Linked DNA regions of Homo sapiens: region 1 is linked to region 2. The links come from fine-mapping of genetic effects on gene expression. A gene starts in region 2. The other region holds a variant in brackets. All regions are shown on one strand. Distances are from middle to middle. Region 1 holds the start of CELF1 (CUGBP Elav-like family member 1). Region 2 holds the start of SLC39A13 (solute carrier family 39 member 13).

Evidence for each region. PIP is the estimated chance that this variant, and not a neighbour inherited with it, causes the effect.
Region 1: its variant is fine-mapped to the expression of SLC39A13 in whole blood (TOPMed, PIP 0.95).

What each region holds. Positions count from the first base shown.
Region 1 is chr11:47,548,102-47,556,428 of GRCh38, reverse strand. It overlaps CELF1 (CUGBP Elav-like family member 1), which reads left to right and starts at 3,297. Exons shown (of 15, transcript NM_001376376.1): 1 at 3,297-3,437. RefSeq lists silencers at 3,022-3,551, 3,622-3,711 and enhancers at 3,059-3,734, 4,410-5,085. The variant G/C (reference allele first, on the strand shown) is at 3,900.
Region 2 is chr11:47,403,631-47,411,957 of GRCh38, reverse strand. It overlaps SLC39A13 (solute carrier family 39 member 13), which reads right to left and starts at 3,368. Exons shown (of 10, transcript NM_001128225.3): 1 at 3,296-3,368; 2 at 1,563-1,871; 3 at 1-32. The coding sequence starts at 1,863. SLC39A13-AS1 (SLC39A13 antisense RNA 1) reads left to right here and starts at 2,676. Exons shown (of 4, transcript NR_182308.1): 1 at 2,676-3,006; 2 at 6,411-6,448. RefSeq lists enhancers at 1,244-2,108, 2,109-2,975, 3,264-4,086 and a silencer at 3,066-3,855.

The DNA of each region.
Region 1 (8,327 bases), 140 kb before region 2:
AGGGTTGCTTGAGCTCAGGAGTTTGAGATCAGCCTGGGCAACATAGTGAGACCCCTGTCTCTACAAAAGAAAAAAAATTAGTTGGACATGGTGGCACACACCTGTGATCTCAGCTACTCACAAGGTTCTGGTGGAAGGATCTCATGAACCCAGGAGTTCAAGGTTGCTGTGAACTATGATAGCACTACTACACTCCAGGCTGGGTGACAGAGCAAGACCCTGTGTCTAGAAAAGTAAAATTAAAAAAATAAAAAATGTTACAATCTCTGCCATTATCCATGAATATTCCCTTAGGATAAATTCCTAGAAAGGTATGTAAAAGTTTAGATTCCTCTAGGCAGATTATCTGAACTTTACTCCCATCACCACTTGGAGAAGGCTATTTCTCTGCACTCTTACTAACACTGGCTTTTTTTTTTTTTTTTTTTTGAGACAGAGTCTTGCTGTGTCGCCCAGGCTGGAGTGCAGTGGTTCGATCTCGACTCACTGCAACCACCGTCTCCCAAGTTCAAGCTATTCTGCCATCTCAGCCTCCCGAGTAGCTGGGATTACAGGCACCCGCCATCATGCCTGGCTAACGTTTGTATTTTTTAGTAGAAACAGGGTTTCACCAGGTTGGTCTTGAACTCCTGACCTCAGGTGATCCATCTGCCTCGGCCTCCCAAAGTGCTAGGATTACAGGCATGAGCTACCGCGCCTGGCCGACATTGGCTATTTTTTAAAAAAAATAAATCTTAATCTATTTGTAAGGCAAAACATGAAACAGGAAGCTTTACATACTCTTAAATCTCACACTAGGCTTTTTTTGTATTTGGACTGTTTAGCATTTTGTCTATGTTGCTGAAACCCTTTGAAGTTACAAGATCTATTTGTGTTCTTCATGTAATTGTTCTTCCCCCCAACCTTGGGCTAACAGTCTGTGGCCTTCCTTGGTAACTAAATGCAAGAGTGATATTAATACCTTACAAGTTCCTCCCTTGCAAATGGGAGCCCTAAGTCAAGGCACAGATAGAATAGGAAAAAGCTTCTGGTTGCTCTTCAAGAAGTTTATCGAGTTAGATACAGTGAAAAGCAATGGAGATATTAGGAGAATAACAAGATGGGCATGGAAGAGTTTCTGTTTGCTCTTCAAGAAATATCTATTGAGTCAGATATTGTGAAAAGCACTGGAGATATAATAAGACGGGCATGGTGCCTTTCCTTATTTAGCTCATGGGCAGGTTCCAAGAAGCTTCTAAAGGCGCAACATTTTGTTTTCCATATCTGGCACCTAGATATACCTATTCAGTAAGTCAACAATATTTATTGAGCATGTACTATGGATTAGGCATTATCAAGGCCCTGAGGATAGAGCAGTGAAATAAAACAGACAAAACCTCTATCCTCATGAAGTTTACCTTTGGTTTACCTTCTGGGCTACTGTCAATAAAACAAGTAAAATATATAAATACAAAATATACTGTGAGGCCGGGTGCAGTGGCTCACGCCTGTAATCCCAGCACTTTGAGAGGCAGAGGCGGGCAGAACACTTGCAGTCAGGAGTTTGAGACCAGCCTGACCAACAGGGGTTGAAACCCCGTCTCCACTAAAAATACAAAAATTAGTCAGGCATCGTGGCACGCGCCTGTAATCCCAGCTACTCGGGAGGCTGAGGCAGGAGAATTGCTTGAACCTGGGAGGTGGAGGTTGCAGTGAGCCGAGATCGCGCCACTGCACTCCAGCCTGGGTGACAAGAGCTAGACTCCGTCTCAAAAAAAAAAAAAAACTGTGTTAGATAATGATAAATGTTTTGGATAAAAATGAAAGTGGGATTGAAAGCATGGGTGTGTGTGTGTGTGCACATGCCATGCATGCAAGCAGTGTAAAATAGAGTGCTTAGGGAAGACTGGACTGAGAAGGTGACACTTAAGTCAAAGTCTGAAGGAGGTGAGGAAGTGAGCCATGTGGATATCCACATGATTCTATGGAGCACAAAAGGAGACAGACTCTCTGCTTGAAACATTTCTACAACCTATAGCAGCAAATATATGGTAATATTTGTGACAACATTCTGTAAGCTATAATGGTCTATAAATATAGGATGTTTTCAGTCAACTACACATAAAACTATTAACAAGAACAAGATCATATATCAGCATTATGAATGTATATAAAACTACCCAGTACAATTAGGGAATATGATCATGTACAATTTAAGGACTATATGGTACCAGAAAAACTCTGGTTAGTTTTTTTCCCCCCCAAAGGCGAAAGAGGAAAACCCTTGAGGCTTCTGCTTGGAAGCCCACTTGTTGTTTGTGGTAAGGTAGGATATAATCAGTATTTGTGGGTATAAAAATTATATTCTCTGGGAAGCCAGATGATGTTAGAGAGAAACCATCCCATGAGTTATTTGCATGTTGATGGGGCCAAAAGCTTCCAGAACAAAGTTTTCTTTCTTAATCTGCATTTAACTGCCTCACAAGGTCTGGAACCTAGGAATAAATGTTGGCTTAAACAACAACAACAACAACAACAAATTGTACTGCTTGCGTTCCATCTAGACCCAGGGATTCCAGAGTAACTCAGGAGGAAGTCTTTAGAGACCTAACCTGAGTTAAGAAAAAAAAATATATATATATATTTTTTTTTCGGTAAAAGCAGGTTATGGCTGGGCAATCGGTCTCTTAATAGAATCTTTGTGAACTTCCTTATGTCGCAGCGATCGTTGCCAGGTTGTGCGTTCACACTGATTATCTTGCTAAAAAGCACTCCCTGCACTTGGAACACACATATTCACATCCCAGCAAAGAAGGAAGGCCTGGATGCTGTTGCTTGTCTGCTGGGGCAAAAAGGGGCGTGCCATGTGCCCAACGCTGGCCAAGCACCAGTCACTCACTCATCCATTTATTCAACAAATATCTTATTATGCTCCTATTCAGTGCCCAGTAGGGGTGCCTCCTTGCCCACCAGGGTCATCTAGAGCTCCTGTGGGTGCGATGGGCGGAGTCGAGAACTTCAGATTCCCAGGCCTGGCTCTTCCCTCCAGTAGGGATCGGAGACAAAGAGATGCGCCCCTGCAGCTCCCTAGGTTGAGGGCTCCGCCCGCGGCCCCAGGGGCTTAGGTGCGGCTGCTCCTCCACTTCCCAGCCCGAGGGGGCGCTGCAGCGCCCGGCGCTCGGCCCGCCCCTACGCCGCGCTCCGCTCGCATCGGCGCTGCGGGCGGCGCCGCGGTGATACGTTCCCCCTCGCCGCGCTCCCCCTCCTCCTCTGCCCTCCCCGCCGGTGGTAGGTGCCGGAAGTGCCGCCATTTTGGGGTGTTCTGCTCTGGCGGCAGCGGCAGCGGCGGCGGGACGCGGAGGCTCCCCCGGGATTCGGCCTCAGCAGCGAGGCGGCGGCGGCGGCTGCGGAGGCGCAGGCAGCAACTGAGGCAGCGGCAGGCTCAGGTGCAGCCGCTGGTGAGTGCTGCGGCCGCAGGATAACGGGCCGCGGGAGGGAGGGAGGGGAAAAAAGGCAAGAGGGAGGCGCCGCGGGGCGGGTCCGGTTAGGGAGGCCGCGGGTCACAGGGCCCTCCGGGCGCGGCCTTTTCTCGTTCCCTGCGTCCTGGGGTAGGGCTGCGATCTCCTCCTGCATGTCGGGGTCCCCGGCTCCCCGGGTCCTGTCGCGTTTGCCCAGCGCGTGCCCCCGCGCCCAGGGAGACCCGCCCTCCTCGTGGCTTTGCTTCCTCTCCCCGCGCCCTTTACCTTCACTCTCTAGGCTCAGAGGCCTCGTGCCCTGCCCAGGGCCAGCTCCGTTTTCCTCGTCTTTCTGGCTGCCGTGCTGGACCCAGGCTACCTGCCCGGGACACCCCATCTCTGCCCCTGTCGTCTCACGTGTTCTTAGTGTCCACTCCTGTGGGTGCCGAAGGGTCCGCGCCCCTA[G/C]AAGGCAGCGCTTTTCCCGAGCCTCGAGAGCCCCTCGTTCCTCGCCCCAGATCCGCTACGGCCTTGGCTCGCCCTCCCCCCACATCAGGTGCTCACCCAGTCGTGGCCTAGTAGCTGGGCAGGAATCTCGCACCCGGGAGCGGGAGGAGCACATTAAAGCGCTTTCTTCGCTAGGGACCAGGCTTTGATTTTAAAGCCAGTGGTGTCGTGGTTGTGGTCCTCCGGGTAGGATGTTGTTGTAATTCTTGGAGACCATTACACATGCACCAAGGAGCTTCTCATTGGTTTAGGCTCATACCCATAGTTGAGGGGAATGTGGTAAGATTTTGACTGGAATCTGTTTCCGCAAAATGGAATCTCTTTCTCGCCAGGAGAGAGCTGTAGGTTTATTACCTTCGAGTAAAAAGGCTGTATAACAGTTTTAAAGAGCATGAAATGCTTTATAATGTGTGCAGTGTAAGAGGTTACAAATAATGAATCTTTTACAAGAACTTCATCTTTTTTTTTTTTTTTTTTAAGACGGAGTTTCGCTCTTGTTGCTTAGGCTGGAGTGCAGTGGCGCTATCTCGGCTCACTGCAACCTCCCCAGGTTCAAGCAATTCTCCTGCCTCAGCCTCCCAAGTAGCTGGGATTACAGGCATGTGCCACCAGGCCTGGCTAATTTTCGTATTTTTAGTATAGACGGGGTTTCACCATGTTGATCAGGCTGGATGGTCTCGAACTCCTGACCTCGGGTGATCCACCCGCCTCGACCTCCCAGAGTGCTGGGGATTACAGGCGTGAGCCACCGCCCCCGCCCGGAACTTCACCTTTTAAAGTTCTTTTCACTGTCTTTGATTACCCATGAATTGGGAAGGCTTTAATTGGATGCTTTCCCCTTGCCCACAAGTGTAGCTTCTCTCCAAGCGCTTTGGAAGTTTCAGCCTCTCTATTAATCCTTGGTGAGAATGAAGGCGTCTCAATATAGAATCACCCTTTCTGTTTTAGCATTAAAGAGTCCACTTAGAAAATCATGGAATTACAATAGCATGCACAAACTGTTGCTACAGTGATTTTCTTCTCATGTTAATTTTTATATTCTTCAGGCTTTACTTACCTAGTATGTGGTTTCTGATCATGAGTTAGCCAAGATTGAAGCAGCACTGTTGGTAAAGCAAAGCTGGAGCTTTCAGTTGTTGCTTTAACCAGGAAGGTTATGGTTCCCCTAGTGGTTCTTTCCTCATGACAGTCCACCACCTGTTTCCATTAAGAATGGCCTTTGGCCCAGATCACAGGCCTCAACTTCTATTCAACCATTCATTCTGACCCCTTTAAAGAAAACCCAGGGTTTTCTTTAGAGATTGTGCTATCTAGACTTAAGATCTGGTAGCAAGAGGGGCTGTTAGAGATGGAATATCTTTTCTAGAACCCCTTCACTTTTTGGATGAGGAAACTGAGGGCCCTAGAAATTAAGTGACTTACTTGCCCAAGGTTATGTTTTTTTTTTTTTTAAACAATATCACGAGTAATAATGCAATCTTCCCTTTGAGGTGTAATGAAATGGGAAAGGACCCTGAATTGAAGTTAGAACTAGGCCTGGATTGTAATGCTTGCTCTGTCATTTACTGGTTACACAACCTTGGCAAGTCACTCAACTGTTCTGCTCCTCAGTTTATTCGCACCTGCAAAATGAAAGAAACAGCATCTGTCTCACATGGTATTAGTTCAGCTTCAGTAACATGGTGAAATACCCATGATGTAATAGGCAGACAGTGAAGTTTTTAGCCAAAATGATTTTTTTCTAAAGACTTCCGTGTATTTTTCTTAATACAGAAGTTACAGATTCACTATAAAAAAAAAACAGGTAAGTCAAAAAATGAAGAAACTCACCCATAGTGCCACCACTCAGAGATGATTGTTAAATATTGGGTCTTTATCTTGCCCATCCTTTTCATATGCTATAGAAATGCCTATCTTCCCAAAATAGGCTTATCTTAGTCACAGTTTTGTGATGTGGGTCCGGTCCCCCCCAACCCCGCCATGGAGTCTTGCTCTGTCAACCATACTGGAGTGCTCACTGCACACCCTGTCCCCCGGGCTCAAGCAGTTCTCCTGCCTCAGCCTCCCGAGTAGCTGTGATTACAGGCGCCCACCACTGCGCCCAGAGGGTTTTTGTATTTTTAGTAGAGATGGGGTTTCACCATGTTGGCCAGGCCGATCTAGAACTCCTGACCTCAGGTGATCTGCCCACCTCAGCCTCCCAAAGTACTAGGATTATAGGTGTAAGCCACCGTACCCGGTGTTTTTTTTTGTTTGTTTGTTTTTGTAGAGACAGGGTGTCACTGTTTTGCCCAGGCTGGTTTTGAACTTCGGATTACAGATGTGAGCCACTGAGCCTGGCCTACATTTTAAAATTGTGGTTAAAAACACAAAATTGGCTGGGCGCAGTGGCTCACACCTGTAATCCCAGCACTTTGGGAGGCTGAGGTGGGCGGATCACGAGGTCAGGAGTTCGAGACCAGCCTGGCCAATATGGTCAAACCCCATCTCCACTAAAAATACAGAAATTAACCAGGTGTGGTGGCATGTGCCTGTAGTCCCAGCTACTTGGGAGGCTGAGGCAGGAGAATCCCTTGAGCCCAGGAGGTGGAGGTTGCAGTGAGCTGAGATTGCACCACTGCACTCCAGCCTGGGCAACAAGGCAAGACTCTGTCTCAGAAAAAAAAAAAACAAAAAAAACCCACAACATTTACTAACTTAGCCATTTTTAAGTGTTCTGTGACATTAAGTACATTCGCACTGTTGGAAAACAGATCTGTGAGTTTTTCATCTTGCGTATCTGAAACTCTATGCCTGTTGGACAACAGCTCCCCTTTTCCCCCTCCTACTAGCCCCTGGTAACCACCATTATTTCTGTTTCTACCAATTTGACTACTTTAGATAACATCATGTAAGTGGAATCATACCATGTCTGTTTTTTGTGACAGACTTATTTCACTTAGTGTAATGTCCTCAAGACTCATCCATGTTGTACTGTGTGACCGGATTTATTTCCTTTTTAAGGCTAATACTCCATTGTGTATATATATATATCATATTGTTTATGGACTGCATCCACTAATGGACTTTTGGGTTGCAGCTACCTCTTGGCTATTGTGAATAGTGCTAATGTGACTAGGTGTGCAAATAGGTATTCCAGCCTCTGGAACAATATCAGTTGTTTTGGATATATACCCCAAAGTGGGATTGCTGGATCAAGTGATAATTCTGTTTTTAATTTTTATTATTTTGAAAGAATCTAGGCCACTGGAATAGTGTTTTTTTATTTGTTTGTTTGTTTTTTGAAGAACCCCTATACTTTTTTCTATAGCAGTTGCACCATTTTACAGTCTTGCCAGTAGTACACAAGGGTTCCAGTTTCTCTACATCCTTGACAATACTTTTTATTTTTTCATGGCCATCTTAATGGGTGTGAGATACCTCACTGTGGTAGTTTTGATTTGTATTTCTCTGCTGACTAGTGATGTTGAGCATCTTTTCATATGCTTGTTGGCCATTTATATATTATCTTTGGAGAAATGTCTGTTCAAGGCCATTTCCCAGTTTTTAATCAAGTTTTTTGATTTTGTATTGTTGAATTATAGAAGTTCTTTATATTTTCTGGATTTTTTTTTTTTTTTTTTTTGAGATGGAGTCTTGCTCTGTTGCCCAGGCTGGAGTGCAGTGGTGTGATCTCTGCTCACTGCAACTTCCGCCCACTGGGTTCAAGCCATTCTCCTGCCTTGGCCTCCTGAGTAGCTGGGACTACAGTCATGCGCTACCACGCCCGGCTAATTTTTGTATTTTTAGTAGAGAGGGAGTTTCACCATGTTGGCCAGGCTGGTCTCGAACTCCCAACCTCAGGTGATCCGCCCGCCTCGACCTCCCAAAGTACTGGGATTACAGATGTGAGCCACCGCACCCAGCCTCTATTTTCTGGATATTAACCCCTTATTAGATAGATGATTTGCAGATATTTTCTCCCATTCTGTAATTTGTCTTTCACTTTGTCGATTGTATGCTTTGATACACAAAATATTTCATGTTCGATATAGTCCCATTTGTTTATTTCTGGTTTTGTTGCCTGCGCACTTGGTGTCATATCCATGAAATCATTGTCAAATCCAATATCATGAAGTTTTTCCTCTATATTTTCTTCTAGGAGTTTTATAGTTTTAGGTCTTACATTTAGGTTGTTTTAACCTTTTTTTTTGAGACGGAGTCTCACTCTGTCACCCAGCCTAGAGTGCAGTGACTCGATCTTGGCTCACTGCAATCTCTGTCGCCCTGGTTCAAGCGATTCTCCTACCTCAGCCTCCCGAGTAGCTGGGATTACAGGTTCCTGCCACTGTGCCTGGCTAATTTTTGTATTTTTAGTAGAGACGGGGTTTCACCATCTTGGCCAGGCTG
Region 2 (8,327 bases):
GCTGAGCAGCTGCTTCAGGCGCCAGGCCCCAGCTACAAGGGAGAGATGCGGGGTCTGGGGGCTGACTGGCTGGAGCTCCTGGCCTGACCTTCATCCCACCCCACTCACTGGGCTCTTTCTGGGCCTGCAAGGCTGGATATGGGTGGCTGCTCTTCCTGGGTCCCCCACCTCACAGCAGAAACACCACACCCTGCCAAATGCCCACAGGGCCACCACCATGTCATGGTGAAGAGCTGACAGGTCCCAGCTCCCAACCCACTAGCTGGTGACCTTGGCAGATGACTTTGGAGACTCGGTTTCTCCATCTGTAAATTGGGTCTTATGGGAATTATTATTTTATCTTGTTTTGTTTTGAGATGGAGTCTCGCTCTGTTGCCCAGGCTGGAGTGCAGTGGCGTGATCTTGGTTCACTGCAACCTCCATCTCCCAGGTTCAAGCGACTCTCCTGCCTCAGCCTCCTGAGTAGCTGGGATTACAGGTGTGTGCCACCACATCCGGCTAATTTTTGTATTTTTGGTAGAGACGGGGTTTCATCATGTTGGCCAGGCTGGTCTCGAACTCCTGACCTCAGGTGATCTGCCCACCTCAGCCTCCCAAACTGCTGAGATTACAGCTGTGAGCCTTTTATGGGCTCTTATGGGAATTAAATGACAATATGTACAGCAAGTGCTCATTACGTGGGAATTTTTCTCTTCTCAGCTGCTGTCACTCTCAGAAAAGTGGCAGAGATTTGGGGACTTGCAGCATCCAGGGTTGGAAGTCGCCTGCCTGAAAGCCATGTCCAACCCTTTGGCTTGATAGAGAAACTGAGGCCTAGAGGACAGAGGCAGCTGGGTTTGGGGTGGGATCCCAGGGGAAACTGCTATTTCCTGGCTGGGTGACCTTGGACTGGTCAAAGAACCTCTCTGTGCCTGTGCATCCCCACTTGTAAAATGGAACTAATAATCCAGGTGCTCCCTGCACTGACCCCGCAGGGCTGCTCTGAGGGTTGAGCACAGGCCTGACCATGGCCCAAGCAGGGCTCTATTCACAGCTGTGGCACCGCCCTCAGCCCAGTGCCTGGCACAGAGCTGCTGGGTAACCATCTGGTAAGTGAATGGTTCCTGAGCATCCAGCTGGCAGCACCAGCCCCTGGGATGCTCGTTTCTAACAGATTCCCAGGGCCTTGGTCCACCCCTCTTAGGTGGGGGATAGGCACGTGCATTCTTAGCAGCTCCCTAGAGCTCTCCTGCGTGTTTTGTTACAACATGTTATTTGTGAACGGGCAGTACATGCTCATGGTACAAAAGGGTAGTCAGGACAAAGCTCCCACCCGTGCCCACATCCCCATCTCCTAGACCCCCTCCCCAGGGGCAGGCCCTGCTACCAGGTGCTCATAGCTTCCTGGGGAAGCCAGAGCCAGCCGCCCCTGGCTAGATAGCTCCTACAGGACCAAGGGGAGAAGTTCTATTCTATCCTCTCCCTCCATCTCAGACACTCTGTGACCTGGGGTCTCCTAAGAAGAGCAGCAGCATGCTTCCCACACCCTGGCCAGCCCTGGGCGCCACCGGAGAGTCACCTACCTTCTGAGCGCAGCATGGTCCCCATCTCTAGGGGAATGACAAGCAACGGGAAGACCCCACTGAGCCCCACCATGAGGGAACCCAGGAGGGAGCAGATCCAGGTGTCCAGCCGCTCTCCGCTCAGCAGAGCCCCCCAGGACTCGCTTTCCTTGTTGTCCAGGCGACAGGCCGTCGCAGTCCCCCGGCTCCGGAGGGCCGGCTGGGAACCCCCAGCCCTTTCCAAGAGCTCCAGGGCAAGGGCAGTGAGGAAGAGGAGCCTTGGGCCCGCCATGCCACAGCCAGGGCAGGGACATCCAGGCATGCCACGTACTGAAAAACACAAAAGGCCACCTATATGAGCTACAGCCTTGGCCGCACACCTGCTTAGGAAACGTGGCGCCTCCCTCCTCCCCGCAAGGGACCCTGGCATCCACCCTCCTGCTGTCCTTGCCAGAGCGTCTGAGCATCCAAATGCTGGGTGCACAGCAATGGGGCCCTGTGTCTCCACACCCTACTCCTGAGCACTGCGTATTTTTTCCTTCTGAGCAGCTCCAGACTGTGTCAGCACCTCCGCCTGAGGCTAAACTTTCCCTAATGACAGGGTGAGGCGCTGGCTGGCTCTCCTCAGCCACCGGCGGCACGGCCCGGCCCAGCTGGGTGTCTCTGGCTGCCAGGGGAGGCCCTGCCGCCCGCGACACCCCAGAGACTGAGGCACCCCTTCTAAGGGGATGGGGTGGATTCAGAGAGACATACGTGGGGAAACTGAGCAGATGAGCCAGGGCAAGACCATCCACGCTTCTTCCTAGGACATGAGACCAATGTCCCCAGGGCACTGAGGGCAACAGGAGATGGGGCTGATGAGGAAGGAGCCTTTAGCCAGGGGATGCCTCTCTCTTGTATAGCGCAGGCTTTAGAGCCCCCACGGTGAATTCTATGCTGCACTTTGAGCTGTCTAACTCTGGGCAAATCTCTGAAGCCCCCCCTCTGAGCCTCAGTGCCCTCATCTGCAGGACAGGGATCAATATCACCTGCCTCAGCTGTGAGGACGAGATAAGCCTGAAAGTGCAGGTGGATGTACCCGGCATGAGGAGGCGCAGAGGCCCTGCCTGTGCCAGGGAAGGCCTGGGGCTCCCTGCAGCAGGAATGTGCCCAGCCGGCCGATCACAGGATGTGGACGTGAGTCAACCAAGCGAGAAGTTCCATCTGGAAACTCGGGCATGAGGTTTAAATGTGGTCTGCTCTGCCTCAGGCTGGCTGTGACCTTGAGCTGGTGATGTCCCTGCCTCAGTTTCCTCACCTTCTGATGGAGATGGGAGGGGAAGAAAGCAGCTGCCTCTGGGTGGTGGCAGAGATGCCCATGTCTAGGACCTCCAGGCCTTAACTAATCAGGGGCACTGATGAAGCCAGCGGGGCTCCACTGGGGACCACAGGCAAGACTGGGCCAGGACGAGGCGGTCACGCAGAGGTGAGGGGACCACAGGCTAGCGGGAGGGAATACACGGAGAGTCCAAGGGGAGAGGAAAGTAGAGAGTGAGAGAGCTAGAGAGAGGCGGGTGGGACGCGGAGAGGACAGCGAGGGAGGGATGGGGCGTGGGGCGCGGAGCGATGGGGGAGAGGAGGCCGAAGCGGGCGAGCCTGACTCCCGGGTCCTGGGAGCCGGCCCAGGTCTGATGAGGACCAGTCGGACGGGGCGAGGGATCGGCCGGGTCCATCACGCCCGGGGCGCGGGCCCCGAGGGTCCTGCTGGCACTCACCGTGCGGCGGCGGCGGCGGCGATCCGGGCGGCCCCAGCCATCCAGCTGCGGTGCCGCGCCCCGCCCAGGCTCTGCCCCGCCCGGCCGCCCGGCCGCCCGGCCCCCGGCCCGGGGCCGCCCCCGGCGCGCGGCCACGTCACAAGGGGCCTGTCCGGAACCCGAGGCGCCGCGTGCCGCGGGGTCGGGGGGAGTGGCGGCGGGAGGGCGCTTCCGCCTCGCGGCGGTGGGGGACCCGGGTAGAGGGCGCACTTCCGTTTGGGCAGGGCTGCGGGCCGGAGGGGAGGGTCGGTCGGAAGTGAGAGAGCCACACGCACCGCGCTCAGCCAGGCTGGGCAGGGACGGAAGCGGCGGCTCTGCGGGGACCGCGATCGACCAGGCTGCGGGGCTTGCGGATCTGGCCGCCGCTTCCCGTCCAGGGCCGCAGTCTGCCCGTGGCCGCACGGGGGCGCGCCCGGCCGCCAGACCACGCCGCCCAGGTCGGGCTGGGAGGACTACTGTGCGCTCCTGCTCTGAGTCAGCCCGGCCTGGCTCCTCCATGAGCAAGGGAAAGGGGAAGTGCCTGCCGCAGGGAGGGGCCTGGCCCCGGGAACCTCAGAAGAGGGAATTTTATTCTTACTCATCGAATTATTTTTATGCTTTGGTTTTTCACTGGGAACCTCAGGCCACTGTCTCCAGGGCTTGTAACCCTTTGGGGTCCAATGCATGGTGGCTGGACCCTGCTGATGGGAACTCCAAACCTGGGAGGCGAGGGCTCTGTGCTTCCCTCACCTGGAGGAAGCTAGACCTGACCTCTTTGGTTAGACTAAGGCAGCAAACACTGGATAGCAGTTCTTATAACCGCAATTTACTGACCACCTACTATGTGCTATTCACTTTACTCGCACTATCTCACTGAATCCTCATATTATCCCATTGTGGTGGGTACTGTTAGCCCAGGGTCACACAGTGGCACAGATGGCAGAGCCAGGATTCAAACCTGGGTGTCCTGAAGCCAGAGTATGTGATACCACTTCTCACGTCTAGGTCCTGAACAGCAGTGGGAGTCTGGCTTGGCGTTTCGAGTTTGTATTCTTCTCTGGAAATCAGCCAGTACAGGAGAAGATTCAGGAAGGGGCATGTGGGTACTCACTTGGGCAGAGATAGCGACTGAGTACAGGTCTCTTAAGTCTCTGACCCTCATCAGCCTCCCATGGCAGCTCCAACCATTTACTCTGTCACTTTCCCCTCTGCTGGGGCTCTTGAGAGCACACTCAGCTCTCAGGGCTGCCTCTGGTGCCTGTCCCACTTCATGTTGCACTGTTGGCCTTCCTTAGACCGCCAACTTCTCCCTGGTGGCCCAGCTTGTCTTCTGAAGCTTTCTGTCCATCTCACCCCACCGGGCCCATACAACTGCCAGGACGTTCTGTTCCCTCCCTGAGTTCCAAAATGGAATCCCTGGGTTAGTTTCTTGGCAAAGAAAAGCTACTCAGGGATCCTGCCCTAGGACTTCTAAAATGCCCCCCTCCCTGTATGCAAAAGCGCTCCATCTTATGCAAAGCACTTCACAATATGCAAATGATTTCACAATAACACAGTCAGCATTCCTGCCTCTGGAGGCTGAGCGCTCCTGGCCACCCAACAAGGGGATGGGCAAGACCCAGCCAGAAACGTTACTTGGTGCCAATGCACTACCCTTTCCTCCCACCTGGCCTGGAATTCCCATCGGATACCTAAGGCCCGGTGGCTCACATCTGTAATCCCAGCACTTTGGGAGGCCTAGGAAGGAAGATCTTTTGAGCCCAGGAGTTCCAGACCAGCCTGGGTAACAAACTGAGAACTGGTCTCTACAAAAAAATTTAAAATTAGTCAGGTGTAATGGTGCGCACCTGTAGCCCCAGCTACTCAGGAGGCTGAGGTGGAAGGATTGCTTGAACCCGGGAGGTCAAGGCTGCAGTGAGCCCTGATCGTGCCACTGCACTCCAGTCTGGGTAACAGAGCGAGACCCTGTCTCAAAAATAAAAAAATAAAAAAAATTACAAATTAATAAAATTGCAGGGGTTTCCAGGTGTGTGAGAAAAGTGAGATGCAGAAATATTTATTTAATATGATCCACTATTTTTATTTTTTAAGAGACTATTTTAAAATAATGACAAAAAGAAACCTTGTATATGTGTATGTGATTAAAGGTATCAGTATATATAAGTCTATGTATAATGAATACATAAAAAACATAGATAACACATTAAAGTGATATTATGGATTCTATGGTGGGAGGAACTAATGTGAATAGGGAAGGAAAAAATGTTAAAGGAAAACAACACATTAAAAGATGTGTATGGCCATATATGGCTGGGCATGGTGGCTTATGCCTGTAATCCCAGCACTTTGGGAGGCCAAGGTGGGCAGATCACCTGCGGTCGGGAGTTCAAGACCAGCCTGACCAACATGGAGAAACCCCCTCTACTAAAAATACAAGATCAGCCAGGTGTGGTGGCGCATGCCTGTAATCCCAGCTACTCGGGAGGCTGAGGCAGGAGAATCGCTTGAACCTGGGAGGTAGAGGTTGCAGTGAGCCGAGATCGCGCCATTGCACTCCAGCCTGGGCAACAAGAGCGAAACTCCATCTCAAAATAAATAAATAAAAGGTGTATATGATCACATGTATGCAATGTGTAAAATTGTATACATATATCAAATCTCATCTCAGATATATGAAAATCTCACTATATAAAATCTCTTTCTCTTTCTCTTTTTTTTTTTTTTTTTTTTGAGACAGGGTCTCACTCTGTCACCCAGACTGGAGTATAGTGGCATGATCTCGGTTCACTGCAACCTCCGCCTCCCAGGCTCAAGTAATTCTCCAGCCTCAGCCTCCCAAGTAGCTGGAATTATAGGCATGGGCCACTACTTCCCGGCCAATTTTTGTAGTAGAGACAGGGTTTCACCATGTTGGCCAGGCTGGTCTTGAACTCCTTACCTCAAATGATCCACCCGCCTCAGCCTCCCAAAGTGCTGGGATTATAGGCGTGAGCCACTGCACCTAGCCTCTGTCTTTCTCTCTCTCTCTCTCTCTCTGGCTTACCTCTTGGTGTCTTGGTGGTTAAGACAATACGATTCTTTGTTTTGTTTTGTTTAGAAAGAAGATAAAAGGGAACAGAAGAGAAAATTCAAAAGGTGAATATAACAAATTTTTTTTTAACTCTGTCACCCAGGCTGGAGTGCAGTGGTGTGATCACAGCTCACTGCAGCTTCGATCTCCTGGGCTCAAGCAATCCTCTCGCCTCGGCCTCCCAAAGCACTGGGATTATAGGCGTGTGCCACTGTGCCCATTCAAGACAGTAAGATTCTGATGCCAGACTTCCTGGGACAAATTACTTAACTCCTTATGCCTCAGTTTCCTCATCTCGAAATTAGACTTAGATGTTGTTGTGAAGATTAAATGGATAAATACAGACAAAGCACTTAGAACTATGCCTGACATATGGGAAGTTTTATATAGAGCTAGAAATTAATGCTGTTTATATGTATGGATATATGGGTATAAAAATATTAAAGCAACATAAAGAATAGCTACATTAAAGATACAGAGTGGGGACACCCTCTCTCCTTGCTAAGCATAAGAAAGTGTTTTTTTGTTTTGTTTTGTTTTGTTTTTTGAGATGGAGTCTTGCTTCGTCACCCAGGCTGGAGTTCAGTGGCGCGATTTCGGCTCACTGCAACCTCTGCCTCCCAGGTTCAAGCAATTCTTCTGCTTAAGCCTTCTGAGTAGCTGGGACTATAGGCACTCACCACCACGCCCAGCTAATTTTTTATATTTTTAGTAGTGACAGGGTTTCACCATGTTGGTCTCGAACTCCTGACCTGGTGATCTGCCCGCCTCCGCCTCCCAAAGTGCTGGGATTACAAGTGTGAGCCACCGCTCCCGGCCTGTTTTGTTTTTTGTTTTTTGTTTTGTTGTTGTTGTTTGAGACGGAGTCTTGCTCTGTCACCAGTCTGGAGTGCAGTGGCACGATCTTGTCTCACTGCAGCCTCCACCTCCCGGGTTCAAGCCATTCTCCTGCCTCAGCCTCCTGAGTAGCTGGGATTACAAGCTCCCGCCACCACTCCCGGCTAATTTTTTTATTTTTAGTAGAGACGGGGTTTCACTATGTTGGCCAGGCTGGTCTTGAACTCCTGACCTTGTGATCCGCCCGCCTCAGCCTCCCAAAGTGCTGGGACTACAGACGTAAGCCACCAGGCCCGGCCTGTTTTTTTGTTTTTGAGTTGGAGTCTTGCTCTGTCACCTAGGCTGGAGTGCAATGGTGTGATCTCAGCTCACTGTAACCTCCGCCTCCCAGGTTCACGTGATTCTTATGCCTCAGCCCCCCGACTACAGGCACCCACCACCATGCCCGGCTAATTTTTGTATTTTTGGTAGAGACGGGGTTTCAACATGTTGGCCAGGCTGGTTTTGAACTCTTGACCTCAGGTGATCTGCCCTCCTCGGCCTCCCAAAGTGTTGGGATTACAGGCGTGAGCCACTGCACCCAGCCACAAATGAGTGTTTTCTGACATATTTATCAGTTGGTTTGGAGGCCATAGGGTTTTCCTGGGTTGAAGCACTGGACAAACTTCAGCAGAGCTGGATGGGCCTGGGTACTGCGTGGCTCTAAGTGGCTGAGAGGTGTCTGGGATCAGGGAGCCACAGATCTATTTCTCTGACTTCACTGCAATGCCCAGAATCTGACTTTAACCCCTTGTTCCTGTCTCTGGCCCCTGCAAGACTGGCTGGCCTGGCAATGGCCAATGCTTTGACATCCTTCCCTCCACTCTGGCAATCGAGGGCTAGAGACTTGGGCTGGGGATGGATACTTCCAGAGTGTGGTCTCTAGTGAGATATCTGGCCTTATCCTTGTCACAGGGCTTCCTCCCGTGGGGGTCAGCAGGAAGATAGCAGTCTCTTATTGAAAGGCATATGGGGCTCAGGATGGTAATCACATTACGCAGGGTCACAGCTAAAAAGAGGCACAGCAGCTCCCCCAGGGCCACAGGTTCAGCTTCTCCAAAGGAGCCC